7 linked regions of the Homo sapiens genome follow. The protein of the gene in region 7 interacts with the protein of the main gene of each other region in a pairwise test. Each region holds a gene or a part of one and is shown on either strand. Other genes may lie near its edges. The genes, in order: USP20, COIL, INPP5J, ZNF844, PAK6, IQCC and HSF2BP.

Region 1 (3,500 bases), on a different chromosome or scaffold from region 7:
AGAGTACCCTCCCTGCCCTGGGTGAGAACCACTGGGCTCTACAGACTGCCCAAGATAAAGCAGGAAGTGAAAACCAAGGTGCAAACCAGGACTCAAGTGTGACTGTGTTTAGAAGAGGGACTTCTGTGAGGGAGCTGAGTGCAGGCGAGGCTCCTGGCGCACTCCCTCCCTGCCACGCTACTTCTAACAGGGTTAGGACGTGTTCCACTCACAGGGAGGGCCTGGTGAGAGACACTGAGGGACGCCCGTGCTTTGTGGCCATTAGGAAATGATTCTGCTGCCTGGGCATGGTGGCTCACGCCTGTGATCCCAGCACTTTGGGAGGCCGAGGCAGGTGGATCACTTGAGCCCAGGAGTTCAAGACCAACTTGGCCAACATGGCGAAACCCCATCTCTACAAACAATACAAAAATTAGCCAGGCATGGTGATGTGTACCTGTAGTCCCCGCTACCTGGAGGGCTGAGTGAGTTGGGAGGATCACCTAAGCCTGGGAGGTTGAGGCTGCAGTGAGCCGTGATCATGCCACTGCACCGCAGCCTGGGCAATAGAGTGAGACCCTGTCTCAGAACACAAACGAAAAAGAGACTGTCAGGGCTGGGCCTAGTGGTATGCACCTGTGGTCCAACCTACTCAGGAGGCTGAGGTGGGAGGATCACTTGAGCCCAGGAGGTCAAGGCTGCAGTGAGCCATGATTGCGCCGCTGCACTCCCGCCTGGGCACAGAGTGAGACCACCCCCCATCTCGAAAAAGAAAATGCTCCTGTCAGAAGGAGAGCTGCCTCTCTGAGCAGATAGGCACATTCTATTCAACCGGAGAAAATTAGCATCTCCCAGGCCGGGCGCAGTGGTTCATGCCTGTTATCCCAGCACTTTTGAGAGGTCGAGGTGGGCGGATCACCTGAGGTCAGGAGTTCAAGACCAGCCTGGCCAACATGGCGAAACCCCGTCTCTACTAAAAACACAAAAAGTAGCCAGGTGGTGGCACACACCTGTAATCCCAGCTACTCAAGAGGCTGAGGTGGGAGAATCGCTTGAACCTGGGAGGCAGAGGTTGCAGTAAGCCGAGATCGCGCCACTGCACTCCAGCCTGGGTGACAGAGTGAGATTCCTTCTCAAAAAGTAGAATCTCCCTTGTGGTCTCAGTTGGGTCAAACAGTTATTGAAGAGACCCACAAAATGTTACCACCGTCCTCTCTGAGTGATGGGTGTGTTCATTTTGTTTGAGCTTGTCTGGGGGTTTGATTTTTCACCTTGAGTATCTGGTGTTTTTGTAAGACTCTTGGGTGAGGGACTGGGGCGGGGGCATTTGGGAAATCCTTGCTGAAGGTAAATAGAGACTGACCTGCCCTCTGTCTCCTCCCGTCCCTGCCCGCCTGCCAGTTGAACAAGGCCTTCCAGGCCGAGGAGTCGCCGGGCGTCATCTACTGCATCAGCATGCAGTGGTTCCGGGAGTGGGAGGCGTTCGTCAAGGGGAAGGACAACGGTGAGCTGAGGGGGGACCTGGCACTTACCTGCCCTGGGGGCCTCCTGGGAGATGGGATGCTGGCAGGGGAGGGCTGGCACACAGGGGCTCCTGCAGGCCCCATGCCTGCCCCCAGGTGCCACCCATCCAGGGTGAACAGAGAGCATGGGGCTTTGCCAGTCCCCAGTGGGGATCACTGTCCCCACCCAGAGGCAGGAAGCTGCTCCTGCTCTGCGCCCCCTGCCCTTCTCCACTCCCTGCCATGCCCAGCAAGCTGCTCTGCCCTCCTGCAAGGCCCTTTCCTCAGGGGAGTGTGTCGCCCGAAATGACAGATTTGTCATCTGACTCCTTGGATTTACAGAGGTGGAGACAGGCCCCATCACAAGCTCCCAGGGTCCCCCAAGTCCCCAGTGAAGAACAGCAGAACCAAGCCATGGAAGCCCACAGGCTCTAAACTATTAAACCTGCATTAAAAATTTCGGCTGGGGCGCCCTCGGGGCATAATCTAACCTGTGGCTCCGGGGCCCGGCAGGGTGGGTAGAGCCCACGGTTCTGCTCACGGGACCCTTGGTGTGGAGCATGAGCACCCACCTGTGCTTGGGAAGGGAGGCCTCATTGCCATCCCGCTAGTCGGGGAAGGTGCCAGGGCCACCGTGAGGCCTCTCTGGTGGTGGCTGAGGCCTTCAGCATGGCTGTGGTTGAGAATGTAGCTCCGGAGCCCTCGCCCTGGCCTGGACGCTGGCCTTGCCTTCTACCAGCTATGACCTGAGTGGTTACTTCACCTTCCCAGGCCTCGGCTCTGTCTCTGTAAACCTCTGTCTTGTCCTGTGGTTGCCGAGGCTAAATGAGATAGCTGGGCAGAGGGGAAGGGGCGTGGTGAGCGGCAGCTGCCAGCAGAGATAAGGGCATGGGCCATCCACCGCAGCTCCTGCGGCCAGCACAGAGTCTGAGACCATCTCGTGTGTCCTGGAAATTCCCTCTGCTGGGTCCTCAGACTGCCACAGAGGAGCATTGGGTGGCTCAGGCGCCTCATCCATTAGAGACTTCACGCTGACCCCCAGGCCTGGGGCGGCCCCACTTGGGATGGCTCTGCTGCTGTGGAGGGTGGAGGGCATGGCAGGGGCTGAACCCGAGCCCGCTGTGTCTGTTGCAGAGCCCCCCGGGCCCATTGACAACAGCAGGATTGCACAGGTCAAAGGAAGCGGCCATGTCCAGCTGAAGCAGGGTGAGTTCCCCCTGGGGTCAGCCAGGCTCCTCTCTGCCCTTCCTGGCTGCCAGGCTGCTGCCCAGTCCCGTCCTTCCAGGAGCCCCCTTACCACCTGTCTTAGAGTCAGGCTGAGACGTCCACCTGAGTCCAGACCCAGGCGGCTGAGAGATGGCCCAAGGGGCTTGGTCTCTGCTTGTGTCCTCCAGGTCCCACCCCTCTGCCTGCTGCTGGCCTTGCCCACCCTGCTGTTTATGTCAGCCCCACCCCCAGGAACAAGGGACACAGCCAGAGATGTGTTATCCGGGGCCCTTAGCGGGATGGACATTCCTCTGGGAAATCCTGATTTCCATCTGACAGCTTTGCATAGAAGCCCTGGTTGCCGTCTTCCCGCTTCGGGGCCTGGCCCTGCGGAGCCCCCACTGCCCAGGCCGGTGGCTTCCTTGAGGAGGCAAAGGTGAGCCTAGGGGTGCCTCTCGTGCCCTGCAGGAGCTGACTACGGGCAGATTTCGGAGGAGACCTGGACCTACCTGAACAGCCTGTATGGAGGTGGCCCCGAGATTGCCATCCGCCAGAGTGTGGCGCAGCCGCTGGGCCCAGAGAACCTGCACGGGGAGCAGAAGATCGAAGCCGAGACGCGGGCCGTGTGATCTGCTGGGCTAGTCTGTAAGTCGCCCCGGCTGGTCCCTCCATGGCACTCTGGGTCCTCTCCTCACTCTCCAGAGACCCTCACATGTCCTTTTGAACATCCAAAGAGCAGGTCCCTGAAAGCACCTTCCTGGAGGATGTGGGAGGGCCCTGGACATGGCCCGGCCCCACTGCTGAGTGCCCGTG
Region 2 (3,500 bases), on a different chromosome or scaffold from region 7:
GGAGATGTGTTTATAAATTGCTCACTCTAGCTTTCTCTCTTGTTCTTTTGACAGAGTTAAATTAGAAGAGAGAGGAGTTGCTGAGAATTCTGTAGTCATCAGTAATGGTGACATTAATTTATCTCTTAGAAAAGCAAAGAAGCGGGCATTTCAGTTAGAGGAGGGTGAAGAAACTGAACCAGATTGCAAATATTCAAAGAAGCATTGGAAGAGTCGAGAGAACAATAACAATAATGAGAAGGTCTTGGATCTGGAACCAAAAGCTGTCACAGATCAGACTGTCAGCAAAAAAAACAAGAGAAAAAATAAAGCAACCTGTGGCACAGTGGGTGATGATAACGAAGAGGCCAAAAGAAAATCACCAAAGAAAAAGGAGAAATGTGAATATAAAAAAAAGGCTAAGAATCCCAAGTCTCCGAAAGTACAGGCAGTGAAAGACTGGGCCAATCAGAGATGTAGTTCTCCAAAAGGTTCTGCTAGAAACAGCCTTGTTAAAGCCAAAAGGAAAGGTAGTGTAAGCGTTTGCTCAAAAGAGAGTCCCAGTTCCTCCTCGGAGTCTGAATCTTGTGATGAATCTATCAGTGATGGTCCCAGCAAAGTCACTTTGGAGGCCAGAAATTCCTCAGAGAAATTACCAACTGAGTTATCAAAGGAAGAACCCTCTACCAAAAATACAACTGCAGACAAACTGGCTATAAAACTTGGCTTTAGCCTTACCCCCAGCAAGGGCAAGACCTCTGGAACAACATCTTCCAGTTCAGACTCTAGTGCAGAGTCAGACGACCAATGCTTGATGTCATCGAGCACCCCGGAGTGTGCTGCGGGTTTCTTAAAGACAGTAGGCCTTTTTGCAGGAAGAGGTCGTCCAGGCCCAGGGCTGTCATCACAGACTGCAGGTGCTGCTGGATGGAGGCGTTCTGGCTCAAATGGTGGTGGACAGGCTCCTGGTGCTTCTCCCAGTGTGTCTCTCCCTGCTAGTTTAGGAAGAGGATGGGGTAGAGAAGAGAACCTTTTTTCTTGGAAGGGAGCTAAGGGACGGGGCATGCGGGGGAGAGGTCGAGGACGAGGGCATCCTGTTTCCTGTGTTGTAAATAGAAGCACTGACAACCAGAGGCAACAGCAATTAAATGACGTGGTAAAAAATTCATCTACTATTATCCAGGTAAGTATTATTTTTTGTAAGTTATCTCCTCCCTTTCCCCTTAGAATGTGTGTGGAGTTCATGTCATGGATTCACATTTTCTCACCAGTGATGATGTCACATGACTAACACTGTTTTTCAGAATCCAGTAGAGACACCCAAGAAGGACTATAGTCTGTTACCACTGTTAGCAGCTGCCCCTCAAGTTGGAGAAAAGATTGCATTTAAGGTATATTTCAAAAGAACAGTCACAGCAAAAAAGGTTCATTCCCCTTCCAAATAAACTTACTTAGAAAATCAGGTTAAATGTGTTTGTAAAAGCCCTTCCCACTGGAACCCCAGTGTTGTTACGGGTTCCTGGTAGGGCTCCCAGACTGGTCGGGGTGGACACGCCAACATGGCATGATGGAGGAGCTGTGGGAATGGGAGAGGATAAGAGGGCTTATGTATTTGTGGGTTTTTTCTTCTTTTTTAGCTTTTGGAGCTAACATCCAGTTACTCTCCTGATGTCTCTGACTACAAGGTAAGGATGTTTATTTAAAAGTAAGTTGTCAGTGTATTATTAAAACTAAAGTCATATTTAATACTACTTGTATGGATAATACAGATTTGTTTTTTTACTAAATAAAAATGCCAGAAAGTAGAAAATGAAAACATTAATCGAAATGTCAACTCTTTAATAGTATCACTGGGAAGTCTCCCTGTGTTATTTGCCTTATACTTGGGAAGAATAGAGTAGGAGAATGATGAGCTTAATTTTTACTTTTTTAAAAAAAATATATTAATTTTTTGTTTTTAAATAGCGACAGGATCTTGCTATGTTGCCCAGGTTGGTCTCAAACTCCTTGGCTCAAGCAATCCCCCCATCTTGGCTTCCCAAAGTGTTGGGATTACAGGTGTGAGCCACTATGCCCAGCCAGTTTAATTTTTTTAGTTACTTTTTTCTAATTAGTTTAGACCAACTTATTTGGGTATTCATTCCTTCATGATTCTAAACTTTGAAAGAAAATAATAAATAGTTCTCAGCAAGAAGATTTGATTATTTTCATCATGGGAATCTATTTTACATATTTGTGAATTACTTCTGGTTGTTATGATCTAGTATGATTTCTTCTGCATTATCAGGTAACCACAGGTAATTCATAAATATTATCCGTGGAATTTACTTACTTAATATCTGTATGAGTCTTTATATTGGCATGTGAGGTTTTTCATAGTTCAGTAAAAGCTTGACTCAGTCAGAGGGATCACAGAATTACATGTTTCTTTTTCACCCACCAACATTTTGTTGAAAATCTTGTTAAAGTGCATTCTTTCTTTTTTTTGATGTACTATATGGAATGTAAGACCATTTTTTAAGGTAATAATTGGTAGTGTTAATATAGTAACATAGATAAAATACAAGGGAATTTGATTTAATCTGGATTGATGCCTTGGAAGACTTAAAATCTTTATAGAAACCTTTCCTCAAGGCTGGGCTTGGTGGCTCCCACCTGTAATCCCAGCACTTTGGGAGGCCAAGGTGGGTGGATCACGAGATCAGGAGATTGAGACCATCCTGGCTAACACAGTGAAACCCCGTCTCTAGTAAAAATACAAAAAAAAAAATTAGCGGGGCATGGTGGCGGGTGCCTGTAGTCCCAGCTACTCAGGAGGCTGAGGCAGGAGAATGGCGTGAACCCGGGAGGCAGAGCTTGCAGTTAGCTGAGATCACACCACTGCACTCCAGCCTGGGTAACAGAGCGAGACTCCATCTCAAAAAAAAAAAAAAAAAAAATCTTTCCTCAAAAGCAGGCTGGAAGAATCAGTTAATGAAGGGATCTGGTGGGTTAGTTCTAGGTCGTTGGTGTTTTGTTTTTTATCTTCTTAGGCACTTACTATCTCCTATGGATGAGGTGATCATGTAATTTATCACCTGAATCAGGATACTTGTGAGTCAAAGGGATGCTATTAATAGTTATGCTGGAAAGATGTACAGACCTGTCTTGAACAAACCAGGGTGTTTTGTCACCCTACCATAGAAAACATTTAATTGTGTGATATATGAGGAAATGGAAATGAATATTGTATTGATACATCCCACAACCTCTATAAATTGTAATTCTAGATGATACTGATTTTTAAAAATTGCTTATTAATGGCCAGGCACAGTGGCTCATGCCTGTAATCCCAGCACTTTGGGAGGCCAAGGTAGGTGAATCACTTGAGGTCAGGAGTTCGAGACCAGCCTGGCCAACATGGCAAAACCCCATCTCTACTAAAAATATAAAAATGAGCCTGGCATGGTGGCGTGCACCTGTAGCCCCAGCTACTCAGGAGACTGAGGCACAAGAATCACTTGAACGCAGTAGGTGGGGGT
Region 3 (3,500 bases), on a different chromosome or scaffold from region 7:
CCCTTGGTCAGCTCAGCCTACCTGGAAGAGCGACCCCGGCTTCCGGTGAGGGGGCCCTCTCCCAAGAAAGGTGGCTGGGGCTTAGCTCTGAGGTTAGCCATTCTTCCAGGGTGGATGGTGTGCTCTACCTCAGCTTCTCTCTCTGAGGAAGAGTCTTTGGGGAGGGGGTTGCTGGGCCCACTCTGTGACGCTCAGAAGATAGCATCCCCTCCTAAGGAACTTGCCGCCTCTCAGTTGATCTCCCCAGGGAGAGTGTGGCAGAGGGACAGGATTCGGGGCCTCCTGTGGGTCCTTCTTAGGGCTTTGGCCCACACCTGCCTCCATTTAGTTCCCCAGGGAGTCCTGTGAAAGGAAGCTTGAGGGTGAGGGAGTGGTGCCAGGACTACACCCTCATATGCCCCTGCCCTCAGGATCACTGTGGTCACATGGAACGTGGGCACTGCCATGCCCCCAGACGATGTCACATCCCTCCTCCACCTGGGCGGTGGTGACGACAGCGACGGCGCAGACATGATCGCCATAGGGTGAGGTGGCAGGGCATGTGGACCCCCTCCTGAGCCCCTCGGGCCTTCCGGGCCCTCCACCCATGGCAGGGGCTTCCAGGGCACCTCTCCAATCCCATGGCCACCCTGCCCCCACCCCTCCAGGTTGCAGGAAGTGAACTCCATGCTCAACAAGCGACTCAAGGACGCCCTCTTCACGGACCAGTGGAGTGAGCTGTTCATGGATGCGCTAGGGCCCTTCAACTTCGTGCTGGTAACGCACCCCTCACCCCCTGGACAGCCAGAGACCCTGCTGAATTCCTGGCTCCAGCTGTACCCTGGCTCACTGTGGGGCCCGCTGGGCCTCTGTGGCTGGGTCCGTGACATGGGTGGGTGGAGGAGCAGACCTGAAGGTGGGCGCGAGGGCGGGGGAGTTGTGTTCTGTCCCCCAGCCACGTGGCCTCCCGCTGCAGGTGAGTTCGGTGAGGATGCAGGGTGTCATCCTGCTGCTGTTCGCCAAGTACTACCACCTGCCCTTCCTGCGAGACGTGCAGACCGACTGCACGCGCACTGGCCTGGGCGGCTACTGGGTGAGCCTGTGAGCAGGCCCAGAAGAGGATGGGACATGAAGGGGGCTTTAGATTAGTCCCCCCGCCCCATGCACAGCAAGGTCCCCTTCCCATCCTCCACCCTTTACCCTGCGGCCCAGCCCCCCCATGCACCACCCAATACCCCATCCTATTCCTCTATACCCCCGCCCTTTTCTCTCCCCACTGTGTCCCAGCGTTGTTCCTCATTTCTGTAGGACCCACCCACCTTCCACCCACATCTCCTCTCTAACCCCCGCTCCCAGTGCCTCACCTCCTGGCCTAAGCCCCGCCCATGAGCCATCCGACCCTGCCTCCCTAGGGTAACAAGGGTGGCGTGAGCGTGCGCCTGGCGGCCTTCGGGCACATGCTCTGCTTCCTGAACTGCCACTTGCCTGCGCATATGGACAAGGCGGAGCAGCGCAAAGACAACTTCCAGACCATCCTCAGCCTCCAGCAGTTCCAAGGGCCGGGCGCACAGGGCATCCTGGATCATGAGTATGGGCTGGGGTGGGGCCAAATAGAGCTTGGGTGGGGCTAGTGATGGGGGTTTTTGTACCACCTTGGGTGGGGCTTATGGAGAGAGGCAGGGCCTATGGGGTTTAGTGCCCACCCAAACTAGTTGTAGGAACACGAAAGCAGAGAGCAGTTGGATGGGGAGGGGCGGAGCTTGTAGGGTGGAGCTTTGCTGAGGGGCCCCGCCTTGCTGAAGGTCAGAACCTAATTTCCTGTAGACCGGTCCCTCTGCTTTTCCTCTGCCCTTTGGTGGGCTGGAGGCTCTGGCACCACTCACCCACTCACTACATCCCCTCGGGTTGGATGGGCTGGAAGGATCTGGGCTGAGCCCTTATCCTCCATGGACCTGTTGACACCCCCCACTGCCCCCCACATCTCTCCCATCCCCCACCCCAAACAGCCTCGTGTTCTGGTTCGGGGACCTGAACTTCCGCATTGAGAGCTATGACCTGCACTTTGTCAAGTTTGCCATCGACAGTGACCAGCTCCATCAGCTCTGGGAGAAGGACCAGGTGGGGTCCTTGTCCCCAGAAGCACACAGAGCATGTCCCAGGACACGCCTGTACCTTAGACTATGGTCCCTGTCCTCACCTGCCCCACCCCCTCCCTGGGCACAGCAGAGCCCAAGCTGTTGTCCAATCTGCTCTCCTGGACCCCCCACAGCTCAACATGGCCAAGAACACCTGGCCCATTCTGAAGGGCTTTCAGGAGGGGCCCCTCAACTTCGCTCCCACCTTCAAGTTTGATGTGGGTACCAACAAATACGATACCAGGTGAGCTCAGTCCGAGGAGGGACTGAGGGGAAGTGGGCTGAGGTCTTCTCGAACAGGGAGACTTTGGGAAGAGGGGCAGGAGGCAAGGTGGAGGGTTACATCTTGATCCCCAGCCCCTGAAACTTGGGGTACCCCTGCTCACTGCAGTGCCAAGAAACGGAAGCCAGCTTGGACAGACCGTATCCTATGGAAGGTCAAGGCTCCAGGTGGGGGTCCCAGCCCCTCAGGACGGAAGAGCCACCGACTCCAGGTGACGCAGCACAGCTACCGCAGCCACATGGAATACACAGTCAGCGACCACAAGCCTGTGGCTGCCCAGTTCCTCCTGCAGGTGAGTTCTGGCCTCATCCTCCCCGCATGAAATCCCCAGGCCCAACTCGGCATACCACTGCCCCTCACCATTACCCTTTGTATAACCCCTTGTACCTGCCCTCAGCAGCATCCATTTGTTGTAACAGTGGAAATGGGGTTGCAATCTACATTTTCAGATGAGGAAGCTGAGGCTCAGACACATGGCATCACCTGCCCAGGGTCACCCAACTAGTAAGAGGAACAGTTAGGATTTGAACCCAAGTGAGTCTGGTTTCAGAGCCCATGCCTTTTCTTTTTTTTTTTTTTTTTTTTTTTGAGACAGAGTCTCATTCTGTCACCCAGGCTGGAGTGCAGTGGCACGATCTTAGCTCACTGCAAGCTCCGCCTCCCGGGTTCAAGTGATTCTCCTGCCTCAGCCTCCTGAGTAGCTGGGATTACATCACCCGCCACCACGCCAGGCTAATTTTTGTATTTTTAGTGGAGACAGGGTTTCACCATGTTGGCCAGGCTGGTCTTGAACTCCTGACCTCCTGATCCACCCACCTTGGCCTCCCAAAGTGCTGGGATTACAGGCGTGAGCTACCGTGTCTGGCCAACTTTTTTTTTTTTTTTTTTTTTCTTTGAGACGGAGTCTTGCTCAGCCGCCCCAGGCTGGAGTGCAGTGGCACAATCTTGGCTCACTGCAACCACCATCTCCTGGGTCCAAGCGATTCTCCCGTCTCAGCCTCCCAAGTAGCTGGGATTACAGGCACCCGCCGTCATGCCCGGCTAATTTTTGTATTTTAGTAGAGACAGGGTTTCACCGTGTTGGCCAGGCTGGTCTTGAACTG
Region 4 (3,500 bases), on a different chromosome or scaffold from region 7:
GTATTTTAATTGCTTACCATTTTTTTCCACAAAGCAATAAGTGGTGGGTATATTCAACCCATTTTCCATGTGCCCCGAGAATACTCTTGTCTCTAATCCTAATGTAACATCATATACGTTTTTGTTATATTAGGATTAGAAACAAGTTCTGTTTAGAAATTTTATTTTCACATTGAAAGTCAATCAGATTTGCTTCAGCTTTAAAGAGTATGCTTGTGTAAAATTCAATGAATGCTGGCAGCAAGCTGCACTTTTTTTTCTAAATGGGAAATGGGTTAAAAATGTATTACTTTATGAATACTGTTCATGAGAGGAAAGCACTCAATAACCACTAAAAACTACATTATATAAATCCTTGTGCCTGATGACTCCTGGTCCACTGACGTTTTCATGAGCTTCTTGGCCCTTTTCATATATCTTGCAGGAATGTCATTCAGATACTTTCCCTATCTTTCAATCAATTAGGTTTTTTTTTTTTTTTTACTTGGTACAATAATTTATTATTGTAAAAAAATTAACATTTATTAGCTTTAGGAATTTTACATGTACTGTTGAGTTAGTTTGTCAAATCTATATAACTCGTCTAAGATGAATAATACTGTATTTTTGTGACTGGCCTTTTGCAATCAGTATAGAATCCTGAATTTTTTTTCTTTTTTTTTTTTTTGTTTGTTTGAGATGGAGTCTCACTCTCTCACACAGCCTGGAGTGCAGTGGCATGATCTTGGCTCACTGCAACCTCTGCCTCCTGGGTTCAAGCTGTTCTCTGCCTCAGCCTCCCAAGTAGCTGGGATTCCAGGCATCCACCACCATGCCCAGCTAATTTTTGTATTTTTAGTAGAGATGGGGTTTCACCATCTAGGCCAGGCTGGTCTTGAACTCCTGACCTCGTGATCCACTCTGCCTCGGCCTCCCAAAGTGCTGGGATTACGGGCATGAGCCACTGCATCCAGCTGAATCCTGAATTTTCATGCTTTTTGTAGCATGGGACAGAAAGTTATTTTGTAAGACTAAATACTATCCCATTGTAAGTACATGCATACCACGTTTTCTTTATCCATTTAGCCATCAGTGGACATTTGGATTGATCCATCTCTTGGCTATTGTGAACAGTGGTTTTCAAATATTTCTTCAAAGATCCAACTTTCAATTTATATGAATTGAATATAAATAGACCCAGAAATGGGTTGCTGGAAGAAAATTTTTTTTTTTTTTGCTAGTTTTTCAGGCACCACCATACTGTTTTCCATAAAGATTGAGCCATTTTGCAATCCTTTGGTCAGAGCACATGGGTTCCAATTTCTCAACGTTTTTTCCAAACTTTATATTTGAGGTGGTTTGATTTTTCTTTTTTCTTTTTCTTTTTTTTTGAGATAAAGTCTCAGTGTTGTTGCCCAGGCTGAAGTGCAATGGCGCGATCTACGCTCACTGCAACCTCCGCCTCCCAGCTTCAAGCAATTCTCTGGCCCCAGCCTCCTGAGTAGCTAGGATTACAGGCACCCACCACCATGCCTGGCTAATTTTTTGTATTTTTAGTAGAGACAGGGTTTCACCATGTTGACCAGGCTGGTCTTGAGCTCCTGACCTCAGGTGATCCACCCACCTCGGCCTCCCAAAGTGCTGGGATTACAGGCATGAGCCACCGCGCCTGGCCTTGATTTTTCTTTTCTTTTTAGTTGAATGTAAGAATTCATTATATTTTCTGAATATTGAGACTTTTCCAGATATATGACTTTCCAATATTTGCTCCAGCATCATGGGGTGCCTTTTCCATCTGTTTATGGTGTCCCCTCATAGACAGAACTTTTAAATTTTGATAAATATTTGCCTTTTTGTTAAGAGTGGGTGCACTGGAGTTTTTATCCCTGAACTTTGTCTCCATTCAGCCTTCAGCATTTCATCAATTACAATTTAAGTTTTCCTACCACAGTCTGCTTTTTTTTTTTGAGACAGAGTTTCGCTTTTGTTGCCCAGGCTGGAGTGCAATGGTGCGATCTCAGCTCACCGCAACCTCCGCCTGCCAGGTTAAAGCAATTCTCCTGCCTCAGCCTCCCGAGTACCTGGGATTACAGGCATACACCACCACGCCCAGCTAATTTTGTATTTTTAGTAGAGACAGGGTTTCTCCATGTTGAGGCTGGTCTCGAACTCCTGATCTCAAGCGATCCGCACGCCTCAGCCTTCCAAAGTCCTGGGATTACAGGTGTGAGCCACCGCGCCCGGCCCACAGTACTGTTTTTCACAAAATTTCTATTCATGAGTTTTTTATTTAGATAGTTCTGCCTCTCTTATCAGTTGGGTTGGTTGAACCCCTTGCAAAATCCAGTTTTTTTTTTTTGCTTTTGTTGTCTGCTGCTTCAATCAGAATAAAATCCCCCTTCCAGGTAATCTTCAATGGTTAAACTTTGTGAACAGGCATTTTCAAGGATATATAGCCTCAGGACTGCTAATGTTAACATTTTCTGCAGGTGAATTTAGAGGACTGTGTTATGACAGGTGCTATAGACCCATGCTACAAACAGACATTAAGAGCAGCCCAGGCAGCGCACCTTTCTCCCTGGATTCCATGAAAAGACACATTTTTCTATTCTGCTGTTCGTTTATTGCTTAGTTCTGTTCCAGCATCAGAATTGCTTTAGAGAAGAAAGTAAGTGTAGACAGAGAGTAATGGGTCAGATGACCAAGAAATAGAATAAATGTTTGGAGTCCACAGCATCATGGGAACTTCTTAGGAAGAGGGTATAGACCCCCAGTGCTGTCAGTCTCACCCATCCTCCTCTATACATGTGGGATGTTTCAGGACTTGGTGGCTTTCGAGGATGTGGCTGTGAACTTCACCCAGGAGGAGTGGTCTTTGCTGGATCCTTCCCAGAAGAATCTCTACAGAGAAGTGATGCAGGAAACCTTGAGGAATCTGGCCTCCATAGGTAAGAATGACAGTATTACGTCCCCCAGTGAATGAGACAAGTGTTTCTAGCTCATTAATGCTATTCCTTGATTTGGAATATGGACAGGCAATACTTTGATGAATAAATGAGGTATGGCTCTAATGTCCCGTGAACATAGAATCTAATCATTTTTTCATAATTTTATTTTAATTCAGGATTCTTTTTCTGATTCTGTATTTTAGGAGAAAAATGGAAAGACCAGAACATTGAAGATCAGTACAAAAATCCCAGGAATAATCTAAGGTGATTTAAACTCACGAGACAAAGCAATGTCTCTCTAGAAAATCTCAGAATGCGAGAATATGTTAAGAAGAAGCAAATAAAGGAAATATGCCTAGCATTAAATTTATTTACTCTTAAAATATTCACTCTAAAAACCTACATTTAAATGTGATCTAGGCTGGGCACAGTGGCTCACACCTGTAATTTCAACTGTTTGGGAGTTGGAGGTGGGAGGATTGCTAGAGGCCTGGAGTTTGAGAAGAGCCTGAGCAAAATGGCGAGACTTCATCTCAAACAAAGAACTAGCTATACATTGTGGCATATACCTGT
Region 5 (3,500 bases), on a different chromosome or scaffold from region 7:
CAGCACCTTGCTCTTGGGCTTCTCAGCTTCCAGAACTGTGAGAAATAAATTTCTGTTGTTTATAAGCCACCAGTCCATAGTATTTTGTTATCCAGTCCAGAAAGACTAAGTAAGCCAGTTACTGAGGGGAGGAGCTGGAATTTGAACGGAAGTGTATCCGACCCCAAAGCTGGTTCTCTCAACTCTGCTGCTTAGAGGCTGCTGGTGCCATGGAATGTTTGAACGGGCAGTGGGGAGAGACCAACTCAGACCTTAATATAAGGCATTTGTGTTTTAAAAAAATCACTGCCCAGGCAGGCTGTCACGTGAGACACAAGAGGGCTGGGGTGCGGGTAGGAGGACCGTCCCTTCCTATTTCTGTGTAACACGCGAGGACCCCCACATGGCACTGGGTGTGAGGGGCAGAGGGGCCCTCAGGTTCCCCCACTCTGTCACTGAGTTCCCTGCTAGGAATCAGGTGCTAGGCTTTCCTGGCCACAAGCCAGCACCCTGCCTGAAGTTCCTGCATCCCACATCTGCCCTTCACAGACCCAGATGGCCCAGTCGCCTCAGGCCCTCAAGCAGGACCTGCCGGGGAGGTGGGGGCACGTGTGCTGGATGCTTGGCAGGAGGAGCCCTGTGGAGCTGGGGCTCCTAGAGGGGTCGCTGCCCACTCACCCTGGAGCCCGAAGCCTGGGAGAGAGGCACTCTTGGGAGAAAATCCCTTCCTCCCCCTCTCCTCCAGGCTGTCCAGCACCTGCTTCTTCCTGCTCCTCACCCTGATGGGACCACCCATCTCTCTCTGCTGATGGGACCAAGAGGGAGGTGCAAACCTCTGAACCTCCGAGCATCTGGAAGTGTGAGCCGAGGGAGCTGACACTGCCAGGCCCTTGGGGTCCCCAGGCAGGAGGGAAGTTGACGGAGTCTAGCTGCAGAGCCATGGAGTCCTGCGGACGGGAGCCCTCTTGCCTCGCAAGACTTACAGCATGTCTCTGGCCTCAGTTTCCTGATGCATGTAATGGAAAGAGTACCTCCCGCCCTGGGGAAGGTGGTGGAATAATGAAGTCTAGAGCATTGGGGTACAGGGCTATGGAGGAGCAGCACCCCCAAACGGGGTGAAAGGTTCTTAACCCTCAGCCCTCACAGCTGCAGAAGGGACCAAGGAGAAAGCTCCCCTCCCCGACCCTGGGCATGCACACTGGAGCTTGGTTTGATGTGCCATGGAGTAGAATCCCAGGATTCGTCCAGAAAACAAGGCTACCACTTGCTACTAAATCAACCCAACAGGTCTGTTCACCCCGGGTTCCGGAAAGAGAGCCCAGCGCCAGGGGGTAGCACTGTCTAGGGCCTGGTTAGGTGTTTTGGAAAAGTCCATGGGTCCCCGCCCGGCTGCTGTACAGATGTGCCCTGCTGATACCCTGGGCCTCAGCAGAACCTCGAGCCTCTCTCTCTCTGCCTGCCTTTCCCTCAGGTTCTGCATCTGTACTAGGCTTCCTGTGCCAACGAGAATATATAAAACCATCCTCCCCAAACACAAGCTGACACTGGGGGCTAAACCTGCCTGACAGTCCCAAGGAGCCTGGTGACCTGGGAGGAGCTCCTCAGATGCAGGGACCATTGCAGGCTGCGGCGCCCGTCCCAGGTGCATCCTGGGCTACCCTGGGAAGGGCTGGGGAACAGCAAGAGCCAGATCTGTGGTAAGGACACTCATTTTAGAGACGTGATGGATTCATTTAATATCTTTTCGCTACAATTGCTTTGCAGTGCCTGCTCTTAATGGCCTCCAAAGTTCCATCCAAATATCTTTTGCTGGCAGTTTAGCTCTCTGGCTGGCATTTTTGCTGGCAGAACTAACAGCTGGATGCCTCCTTGAATGGGAAACTTTCATTGTCTTGTCTTCTCTCTTCTGAGTTTCCAGTGACTGCCCCAGGTCTGAGGCTGGAGCAGGGCTCTGACTGTGACACCCCTGCGTGGAGCCCAGTGGCTGACTTTCAGGAAGGACAGGTGAGTGTGGGGGAGTGGAGGCCTGTGCCTGACTAGGTGAGGGCCCAGGCCCAAGCTCCAAGGAAGAAAAGGGGATGTGAGGAAGCAGGGTATTTGTTGCCTGAGGCCCACCTCCAACACTTTGGGCAGAACACCTTAGCTCCAGATGCACAAAACTCACAGGCTCTGGGCTGTGCAGCCCCCTGGGAACACTAACTAGCTGGCCTCAGAGTCTGTGGACCTCTGCATGTGCCCTGGGTCAGAAGGCATGACCTGTCTAACTGCCACATGGCGTGTCTGTGCCATGCTGCCATCCTTCTCAGGGTCCTCTCTTCCCTAGCATTCTGGCACACACCGGACAGAACCCCTTGACTGCTGCAGGGGTGGTTGGCCTGCTGGGACATGTATTTGAACGCTGACATAGCAGGGTTCTGGTAACACCACTGCCACACCCTCGTCAGTGGCTGGTACAACAGCCTCTGCTAGGATGATGGACCTCATCATCCATGAGGCAGCCCCTCCTCCTGTCCTGACCACCCTCTCCTCGACAGGAGCCCTGAATGCCTGCTCACTGGCGGCCTTGCATTCTTCCCCCGGGGCTGGCTCCATCCCTCCCCAGGAGCTGAGACCTCTACTTCTCCCCACCTTTCTGGATCCCAGACACATCATCAGCAAGATCCACTCTAGTGGAATAGAAAAAGTCTTCTTGTCTAGCTTGGGCCTGGTGACCGGTGGCAAGTGACAGGCCTCCTGCTTCTGGGAACTGACCTCTGATGGTGGCTATTGGACATGTAAATGTCTGCCTGGGGTCAAAAGTCTACACTAATGAGAAGATCACCTGAAGAACAGGGCCTCCCAGGTGCCTCCCCTACCCTTTGCCCCAGAATCTCCGTTTCATCTCTGGCACTCATCATGACTCCCTTCTTTGGCCTAAGACATGAAGTTACCTGGGACAAAAAGAACTTCAATCAATCAATTTATAAATTAGTTAGATCTCTTCAACAGAGAGTGGCCTGGTCCCCAAGAGTGGCCTGGGTGCTGTGTGCAAAGTTTATCCTCGGGAAGCACTTGACTGACAAGCGTGGGCTGGGCTGTGGTTTCAGGTCTAGCAGAATGCAGGGGGATGGCAGGAGGCACCCAAATAGCACAATAGGAGCAAAGCGGGGACCTGCCCAGCCTCCCAATGTGTCAGGCCAGGCCGCCTCTCCCAAGCCATCAAGTTACCCAGTGGCTGCTGCCTGCTCCTGCATGGGCCCCTTGGTAGCACGGGGGTGGGGGTTCAGCCTGGGTAGCAAGAGTGCTGGGCAGGCAGCTGGGGATCCCTGGGCTGGAAACTGACTCTGCCATTAGTTAGCTGTGTGGCCTCAGGACCCACTTTCCTTCTCTGGACCTCTGTTTCCCGCTCTAAAATTATGGGGGCTGGACGAAACATCCTCCGGGGACTCCCTTTGGCTTGAATGTGCTACAGCAATCTGAGATGGCCAGCTCTTTCCTGGGGCAGCCTTTTCCTCCTCAGAGCTCCTCTTTGCTGATCTGAG
Region 6 (4,193 bases), on a different chromosome or scaffold from region 7:
GAGGAGGACGATGAAGAGGAAGAGGATGGGGTCACTGAGGGGCTGCCAGAGGAGCAGAAGAAGACAATGGCTGACCGTAACCTGGACCAGCTGCTTAGCAATGTGGGTTCATGTCTGGGTGCTTTGGTTCCTGGGGGCATGAGGGGTGGAGAAGGTACATACTCCCAAAGCCATTCCTGGGCCCTGGGTGAAAAGGTGGGAGTGCATGGATCCAAGAGCTCTGGGCCCCTCAACCTCCCCAGAAGATAGCCCCCAGAGCATTGGGGATTTGGCCTGGTTCCCCTCCTAACAGAAGCCTCCCTTTTTCTCTTTGTTGGCAGCTGGAAGACCTCAGTAATTCTATGTATCCTTTCCAAGGAACCCGTCTATGTGTGTGTGTTCCTGAGAGGTCAGTTTCCTCCTCTCCAGCCCTCCAGGAGTATTCACACACAACCAACTTCCCCACCTCTTGCAGTCCTGTCAGATTTAGCCACAGACTGCCCAAACCCAGGTACAGGAATTTAGAATTTCCCCAAAATTAGAAGAAAAGTGGTTGTAGGGGATGTTTTACTACTGATCAAAATCTTTGTGAGTACTTTAGCTGACATCAATCATAGCAAAGCTTGTCCGATGTCCTCCTATCCTTTCAGCATTGAACAATTATTTTTACTAATTTACACTACCACCTCACCTGGTCCTCAGTCAGAAACAGCGCGAGTGCGCGCGCACACACCCCAGTGTGTCTGACCTGCACGATCTGGATGAAGAGAGAGGGGGTGAGAGAGGGCAGGCGGGGACTGCAACCTCAGTCCACAGACGGCCCGAGACCCTCGTCCCCGGCCCTTTGCACAGGTGAGGGAACTAAACCTGTGCAAGATGGGAGACCGGGGTGGGAGGAAGGACTGGTCCAAAGCGCCACGATCCTTGACGGGCACAGCCAGAAGCTGCACCTGGCCGAGAACGCCGAGCCTGAGGAGCAGTCCGCTGCGTAGGCGTCCCACGCAGGCCCACACTGCCCCTCTCATTCTCTTCAAACTGTGACTTTTTACAGACTCGGGCGGGTGTTCTGCGGCCCCCCAGGTGCTATGGGGGAGGGGGGCGTTGAATGGAATTAAACCAGAAAGAAAGCAAGCGGCTCCGTGTCCTGCTTCCCCTCCTTGCGCCTTTCCTCCCGGTCTCCGCGGAGACAGCCCTCGGTTATGGAGGTACCGCCTGCGGGATTGGAGTGCCCCTTGCGGCTGTGGGAGGGGCAGTCGGGGGCTGGGGGGACGCAGGTACGCCTGTCGCCAGGACGCCTCTACCCTGGACGGTAGGAGGTTGCCGTGGGAACGGCTGGGGCAAAGCCCACGCCCGCGCATGCTCAGGAGCGACGCCGACCAATGACGTACTTCGCAGGCGCGCGGGCGGGCCTGGCAGTTGGCGCCCATGGAGCCAGAGCTGCTGGTTCGGAAGGTGTCTGCATTGCAGGTGCGGGGGCGGGCGCGGGGTTCACAGGATTTTTCCTTTAGGGAAATCATGGGGTCTCGTACCTGGACCTCCCAGCGAGATGCTACCACGTTCAGTCCCCTAACTGCGCGCCAACCTCTGGAGATACCGGCTGTCCCCAACCGCGCTGAGGAAAGCTGGGACCCACGGACTCCCTGCCCTGCGCGTCCCCACTCCCACCACACGCTCGCGCCGGATCAGGGAAACGGGAAGAGCCTTAAGGCGAGGAGGGGCATCCAGTCTGGCATCGTCCCTCGAGCCCCCCGGAGCCCTAGCGCACAGCCCACCTATCCTTTCCCCGCCGTCAGGTCCCCTCTTGCATTCGCCGGGACGACCTCTTCAGGACAGTCCTCCGAGATGCCCCCTCTCTTACCGTGATAAGGGACTTCTTTCCTCTCGTTCTCCATACCAGGCCTGCGTCCGGGGCTTCTTGGTCCGACGCCAGTTCCAGAGCCTGCGAGCTGAGTATGAGGCGATTGTACGAGAGGTCGAGGGCGACCTGGGCACGCTTCAGTGGACCGAGGGCCGCATTCCCAGGCCGCGATTCCTCCCAGAGGTAGAACACACCTAGGAGAGAAGGGAAGGAGGGACTTGGGCAGGGTGGAACCCACCCTTCCCAGTGATAAGCTTTTCTCACTGGAAGAGGCAGTAGACTCACCTCCTCACACCCCACTCCTTAACCCTCACCAACTTGTCTGCTAGATCATGGTGCCCAGATACTTGGAAGGGTTTAGCCCTGGGGCTCTCACATCTCTCTTGTTTCTCAGAAGGCAAAATCCCATCAGACCTGGAAAGCAGGAGACAGGGTAGCAAATCCAGAGCAGGGGCTGTGGAACCACTTCCCATGTGAAGAGTCTGAGGGAGAGGCCACCTGGGAGGAGATGGTGCTGAAGAAGTCAGGAGAGAGCTCAGCAAATCAAGGAAGCCTCTGCAGAGATCACAGCTCCTGGCTTCAGATGAAGCAGAACAGGAAACCCAGCCAAGAGAAGACCAGAGACACGACAAGGATGGAGAATCCAGGTACCTCTCTGCAAAGATCAGGGCAAGCCCCTGACCCTCACTGTGCCTCAGCCTCCCATCTGAAGAGTGAAAGGCTTGCGCTAGATAAGCTGCATCCCTTTCCCGTCTTCCCTCTGCCGGGATAGGGCCACCACATGGTTGGGCAGTGCAGGGGAGGGAGTTTCCAAAGTCTAAGGCTAGGCCATTTCCCAGGGTCTGGTCCCTCAAGGTTTTCTCCTTCCTTTCTTCCCTCCTTCACAGAAGCCACAGATCAAAGACTGCCCCACAGCCAACCTCAGCTTCAAGAGCTTCAGTACCACCGCAGCCACTTGGCCATGGAATTGCTGTGGCTGCAACAGGCCATCAATAGCCGTAAGGAGGTAACACTAACCTGGAACTCTTTCTGAACATTTAGGGTCAAGGGTGGGGGTTAGGGAGAGACGACCTGCCATGCCCAAGCAGGCCTGCTTGGTACAATGTATGTTCTCTCCCCCAACAGTACCTACTTCTTAAACAAACACTGAGATCCCCAGAGGCGGGCCCGATCAGAGAGGAACCCCGCGTGTTCCTAGAACATGGGGAACAGGCCTGTGAGAGGGACCAGTCACAACCAAGCGCACCACTGGAGGACCAGTCCTACAGAGACAGGACCACTGGAGAGCTAGAACAGGAGGATGACTCCTGTCACAGGGTCAAATCACCCCACAGATCCCCAGGAAGTTTGGCCACTACACAAAAAAACATTGCTGGGGCTAAGTGCAGAGAACCATGCTACAGCAAGTCTGGACCACCGTCGTCTATACCATCAAACAGCCAGGCCTTGGGGGACAGGCTCACCAAAGGGCCAGACGATGGAAGACAGACCTTTGGAGGGACCTGCCTGCTGCAGATGAAAATCCTGGAGGACCAGACCCCCAGAGGTTTAAAACCTAGGAACCATTGTCCCAGGAAGTCCAGGACACAGCTGTCTGCACTCTATGAGGACTCAAATATTAAGGAGATGTCTCCCAGAAAACTAGACCACAAAGAGCCTGACTGCCGAACAGTCAGGACACAAGAGTTGGGCCTCTCAGAGGACCACATCATCTGGGATGGTACCTTGGGGGGGCCAGAGCATAGTGTCCTCGATCTCTGGAGGACTAAACCACCCAAAGGCCAGGCCCCCACTGATAGAAGCTCCAGAGATGGAACCTCCAATGAGCCTAGTCATGAAGGACAGAAAAAGCAGAGGACTATACCATGGAGATCAAAGTCACCTGAGATTCTGTCTTCTACAAAGGCAGGCTGTACAGGAGAGGAACAGTGGAGGGGCAGGCCATGGAAAACAGAACCACCTGGCTAGACCCTAGGAAGCCAGGAGAGGATCAGGTTCCAAAGGGGAATGCTATGAAAGGGCAGTGAGACAAGACCTCATCCTACCTCCCTGACCAGCTCTGGCTTCTGCTCCTGCCCCTGGCCATTGGTGACTAGTGGGGCCAAGAGAAGCTGGAGCAGAGAGCTGGCATGAGTATAGGGAAGGAGGAAGGACACATTTTCAATCCTCTGCCTGTAGCTCAATCCAAATTTGTGGATAAGGGGCCGGGTGCAGTGGCTCACACCTGTAATCCCAGCACTTTGGGAGGCCAAGGTGAGTGGATCACCTGAGGTCAGAAGTTTGAGACCAGCCTGACCAACATGGTGAAATGAAACCCCATCTCAACTAAAAATATAAAAATTAGCCAGGCGTGGTG
Region 7 (3,500 bases):
GTGTGGGGAGCGTGTGTGGGGGGGGAGTGTGTGTGCCTGTGAGCCTGTGTATGTGGGATCGTGTGTGTGGGAGCGTGTGGGTGTGTGGGAGCATGTGTGTGTGTGGGAGCGTGCACACGCACATGTATGCATGCGTGCAGGCATTTGTCAGGGAACTTCACAGAAGGGGATAAATTTGAAATGGGCCTTGATGAATAGGTAGAAATGGCAGAAAATGGGTGGGTTTGTTTTAGGACAGTGAGTAGGTCAGTTGACACAGTGGAGAGTTAATGTCATAGAGTAGTGGGGAGGTAAAGCTTAAACGTAGGTTGGGATGTGACTTTGGGACCTTGAATACCAGGTTGGTGATTCATTCTGTAGGTGGGAAGACTGGATTTTCCCTAAGGGTTTTTCAATAAAAGTGATAGGATAAGAGCAGAATTTTAGAAAGATTCACCTGACAGTGGGTGAGGATGGATTAGGAGGTGGAGTTGTGGCACATCGCGTCTACACAGGATGACTGATGAGGTGGTCATTCTAGCTGGTCTGGCTGGAGTGAGCTCGGCCCTCTGCAGGGGAGATGGGAAAGAAGGAACATGTATGAGAGCTGTGGCAGTTGAGGCAGATGCGATGGCCGGGCAGAGTGGGCACCTGGAGGGGACAAGAGGAGCCAAAAAAGATCGGTGTTTGACTCTGGGAGCATGGCGTGATCATGACTGGAAATGAAGGTGAAGAGGGGGACGTGTGGCAGGAAACCAGTGAGAAATTAGTTACTGCTAATAGAAATAACAGTTGTGTTTGACTTTAGGTGGAAAGACTAAATGTGTTTTTAAAAGTTTGTTGAGCTTTATTAGGTTTAATTTACATACTGTAAGATTGTAAATGTACAATTTAGTGGTTTTTAGCAAATTTTTAGAGTTGCATTAACCATCACCACAACCCAGTTTTAGATTATTTGATCATCCATGAAGTTTTCTTATATCATTTGTAAATGCAAATATTTCCAATTTTTTAACTGGGTTAAAATGTACATTGGTTTTAAAATTCTTCTTCAGAACTCTAGCACCCCAAAGGAAGTAACTCAAAGGTTCAAACTTGGAAATGCTTTTTGCCAAGTGATGAAGATTTAAACTACCAGAGGAGCCAGTCTTTACCTCTTTTACATGTTTTCATTAAGATTTTTTTTTTTGAAAAAAGTTATGCTAAAGGTTTGAACACCTCTGGTTTAATGCCCAGAGCAAATAGGCAGCATGTTTTTCTAGTATATTTTTATTACATTTTGAGTGAATTCTTCCCATTTACTTTCATCATCATGTACATTTGTCCTATATCATATTTATGCGTGTGAAGAGTCCACCAATCTTCAGGGTAGTTTTTGTTGCTCCTGCATGCCTCAAGCTGCTTTCTCTGTTCTTTTAATGGGAACTTTTAATGAGGGAATAGATTTTACAATATTCTACAATTAAAACTAGAATCTTCTGTATCCTGCACTTTTAAAATGTTTTCACACTAGTGTCTGTAAAAAGATATGACACTCTGATTTTCAAACTTTCAGGATAAAGCTTTGAAGTTTTTCAGCATCACTGGTCAAACAATGGAGAGTTTTGTGAAGTCGTTAGACGGTGATGTCCAGGAGCTGGATTCGGATGAAAGTCAGTTTGTTTTCGCTCTGGCTGGAATTGTCACGAGTAAGTGCAGGCGCACCTGAGAGATGTTGCCTGTTTGCTTCCAGACCACTGCAGTAAAGCAAATACTGCAATAATACATGAGTCACATGAATGTTTTTGGTTTCCCAGTGCATATACAAATTATGTTTACACTATACTGTAGTCTGTTGTATGTACAATAGCATTATGTCTAAAAAATGTACAAACTTTAATTAGAAAATTCATTATTGCTAAAAATGCTAATGATCATCTGAGCCTTCAGCAAGTTACAATTTTTTGCTGGTAGAGGGTCTTGCCGTGATATTGATGACTGCTAACTGATCAGGGTGGTAGTTACTGAAGGTTGGGGTGGCTGTGCCAATTTCTTAAAATAAGGAACAATGAAGTTTGCCACATTGATTAATTCTTCCTTTCATGTAAGATTTCTCAGTAGCATGTGATGCTGTTTGATAGCATTTTTTCCACAGTAGAACATCTTTCAAAATTGGAGTCAGCCCTCTCAAACCTTACTGCTGCTTTGTCAACTAAGTTTATGTAATATTCTGAATCTCTTGTTCTTATTTCAACAATGTCTTAGCATCTTCACCAAGAGTAGATTCCATCTCAAGAAACCACTTTCTTTGTTCTTCCATAAGAAGCAACTTATCCTTTTTTTCTGCCACCACGTCTGTAGTTACTTACTCCACTGAAGTCATGAACCCTTCAAAGTCATCCATGAGGATTGAAATCAACTTCTTCCGAACTCCTGTTAATGTTGTTATTTTGACCTCCTCCCATGAATCATGAATATTCTCTTGTTGCCCAGGCTGGAGTGCAACGGCGTGATCTCGGCTCACTGCAGCCTCCACATCCTGTATTTAAGTGATTCTCCTGCCTCAGCCTCCCAAGTAGCTGGGATTACAGGCATGCGCCACCATGCCCAGCTAATTTTGTATTTTTAGTAGAGATGGGGTTTCTCCATGTTGGCCAGGCTGGTCTTGAACTCCTGACCTCAGGTGATCTGCCCACCTCAGCCTCCCAAAGTGCTGGGATTATAGGCATGAGCCACTGCGCTTGGCTGAATCATGAATATTCTTAATGGCATCTAGAATGGTGAATCCTTTTTAGAAGGTTTTCAGTTTACTTCACCCAGATCCATCAGAGGAATCACTGTCTATGGCAGCTGTAGCGTTATGAAATGTAGTTCTTAAAAAAAATAGGACTTGAAAGTTGAAATTTCTTTTTGATATATGAGCTGAAGAATAGGTATTGTATTAGCAGGCATGGAGTCAACATTACTTTCCTTGTACCTCTCCATCATGGCTCTTGATTGACCAGGTGCATTGTCAATGAACAGTAGTGTTTTGAAAGAAATCTTTTTTTCTGAGCAGTAGGTCTCAACAGTGGGCTGAAAATATTCAGTAAACCATGCTGGAAACAGGTGTGCTGTCATCCAGGCTTTGTTTTTCTATTTCTAGAGCATAGGCAAGAGTAGATTTAGCATAATTCTTAAGGGCTCTAGGATTTTCAGAATGGTTAAATGAGCATTGGCTTCAATTAAAGTCACCCGCACCATTGGCCCCTAACAAGAGAGTCAGCCTGTCTTTTGATGCTTTGAAGCCAGGCATTGACTTTTCTCTAGCGGTGAAAGTCCTAGATGGCGTCTTCTTCCAATAGAAAGCGACTTTGTCTACATTGAAAATCTCTTGTTTAGTGTAACCACCCTCGGCAGTGATCTTAGCTAGATCTTCTGGATAACTTGCTGCAGCTTCTCCATCAGCACTTGCTGCTGCACGTTGTTTTTATGTTATGGAGACAACTTCTTTCCTTAAACCTCATGAAGCAACCTGTACTAGCTTCCAGCTTTTCTTCTGC

The links.
Region 1: the proteins of HSF2BP (region 7) and USP20 interact in binary tests that used the Homo sapiens proteins (3 or more experiments, as listed by UniProt).
Region 2: the proteins of HSF2BP (region 7) and COIL interact in binary tests that used the Homo sapiens proteins (3 or more experiments, as listed by UniProt).
Region 3: the proteins of HSF2BP (region 7) and INPP5J interact in binary tests that used the Homo sapiens proteins (3 or more experiments, as listed by UniProt).
Region 4: the proteins of HSF2BP (region 7) and ZNF844 interact in binary tests that used the Homo sapiens proteins (3 or more experiments, as listed by UniProt).
Region 5: the proteins of HSF2BP (region 7) and PAK6 interact in binary tests that used the Homo sapiens proteins (3 or more experiments, as listed by UniProt).
Region 6: the proteins of HSF2BP (region 7) and IQCC interact in binary tests that used the Homo sapiens proteins (3 or more experiments, as listed by UniProt).

What each region holds. Positions count from the first base shown.
Region 1 is NC_000009.12:129,876,958-129,880,457, forward strand, and holds part of USP20 (ubiquitin carboxyl-terminal hydrolase 20), read left to right. Parts: intron 1-1,380; coding exon 1,381-1,483; intron 1,484-2,615; coding exon 2,616-2,687; intron 2,688-3,155; coding exon 3,156-3,316; 3' UTR 3,317-3,332; exon of another isoform or gene 3,333-3,500.
Region 2 is NC_000017.11:56,947,551-56,951,050, reverse strand, and holds part of COIL (coilin), read left to right. Parts: intron 1-54; coding exon 55-1,162; intron 1,163-1,283; coding exon 1,284-1,370; intron 1,371-1,616; coding exon 1,617-1,664; intron 1,665-3,500. UniProt on the Homo sapiens protein: Component of nuclear coiled bodies, also known as Cajal bodies or CBs, which are involved in the modification and assembly of nucleoplasmic snRNPs.
Region 3 is NC_000022.11:31,125,966-31,129,465, forward strand, and holds part of INPP5J (phosphatidylinositol 4,5-bisphosphate 5-phosphatase A), read left to right. Parts: coding exon 1-45; intron 46-328; exon of another isoform or gene 329-410; coding exon 411-524; intron 525-647; coding exon 648-756; intron 757-955; coding exon 956-1,072; intron 1,073-1,391; coding exon 1,392-1,567; intron 1,568-1,809; exon of another isoform or gene 1,810-1,985; coding exon 1,986-2,097; intron 2,098-2,248; coding exon 2,249-2,358; intron 2,359-2,505; coding exon 2,506-2,689; intron 2,690-3,500. UniProt on the Homo sapiens protein: Inositol 5-phosphatase, which converts inositol 1,4,5-trisphosphate to inositol 1,4-bisphosphate.
Region 4 is NC_000019.10:12,071,231-12,074,730, forward strand, and holds part of ZNF844 (zinc finger protein 844), read left to right. Parts: intron 1-2,800; coding exon 2,801-2,927; intron 2,928-3,130; coding exon 3,131-3,191; intron 3,192-3,500. UniProt on the Homo sapiens protein: May be involved in transcriptional regulation.
Region 5 is NC_000015.10:40,245,563-40,249,062, reverse strand, and holds part of PAK6 (serine/threonine-protein kinase PAK 6), read right to left. Parts: intron 1-3,500. UniProt on the Homo sapiens protein: Serine/threonine protein kinase that plays a role in the regulation of gene transcription. The kinase activity is induced by various effectors including AR or MAP2K6/MAPKK6.
Region 6 is NC_000001.11:32,204,278-32,208,470, forward strand, and holds the start of IQCC (IQ domain-containing protein C), read left to right. Parts: upstream 1-1,393; 5' UTR 1,394-1,404; coding exon 1,405-1,446; coding exon of another isoform or gene 1,447-1,686; intron 1,687-1,876; coding exon 1,877-2,020; intron 2,021-2,231; coding exon 2,232-2,484; intron 2,485-2,724; coding exon 2,725-2,843; intron 2,844-2,962; coding exon 2,963-3,805; 3' UTR 3,806-4,193. Other genes in the region: CCDC28B (coiled-coil domain-containing protein 28B), read left to right, coding at 1-102, 321-521.
Region 7 is NC_000021.9:43,628,489-43,631,988, reverse strand, and holds part of HSF2BP (heat shock factor 2-binding protein), read left to right. Parts: intron 1-1,534; coding exon 1,535-1,667; intron 1,668-3,500. UniProt on the Homo sapiens protein: Meiotic recombination factor component of recombination bridges involved in meiotic double-strand break repair.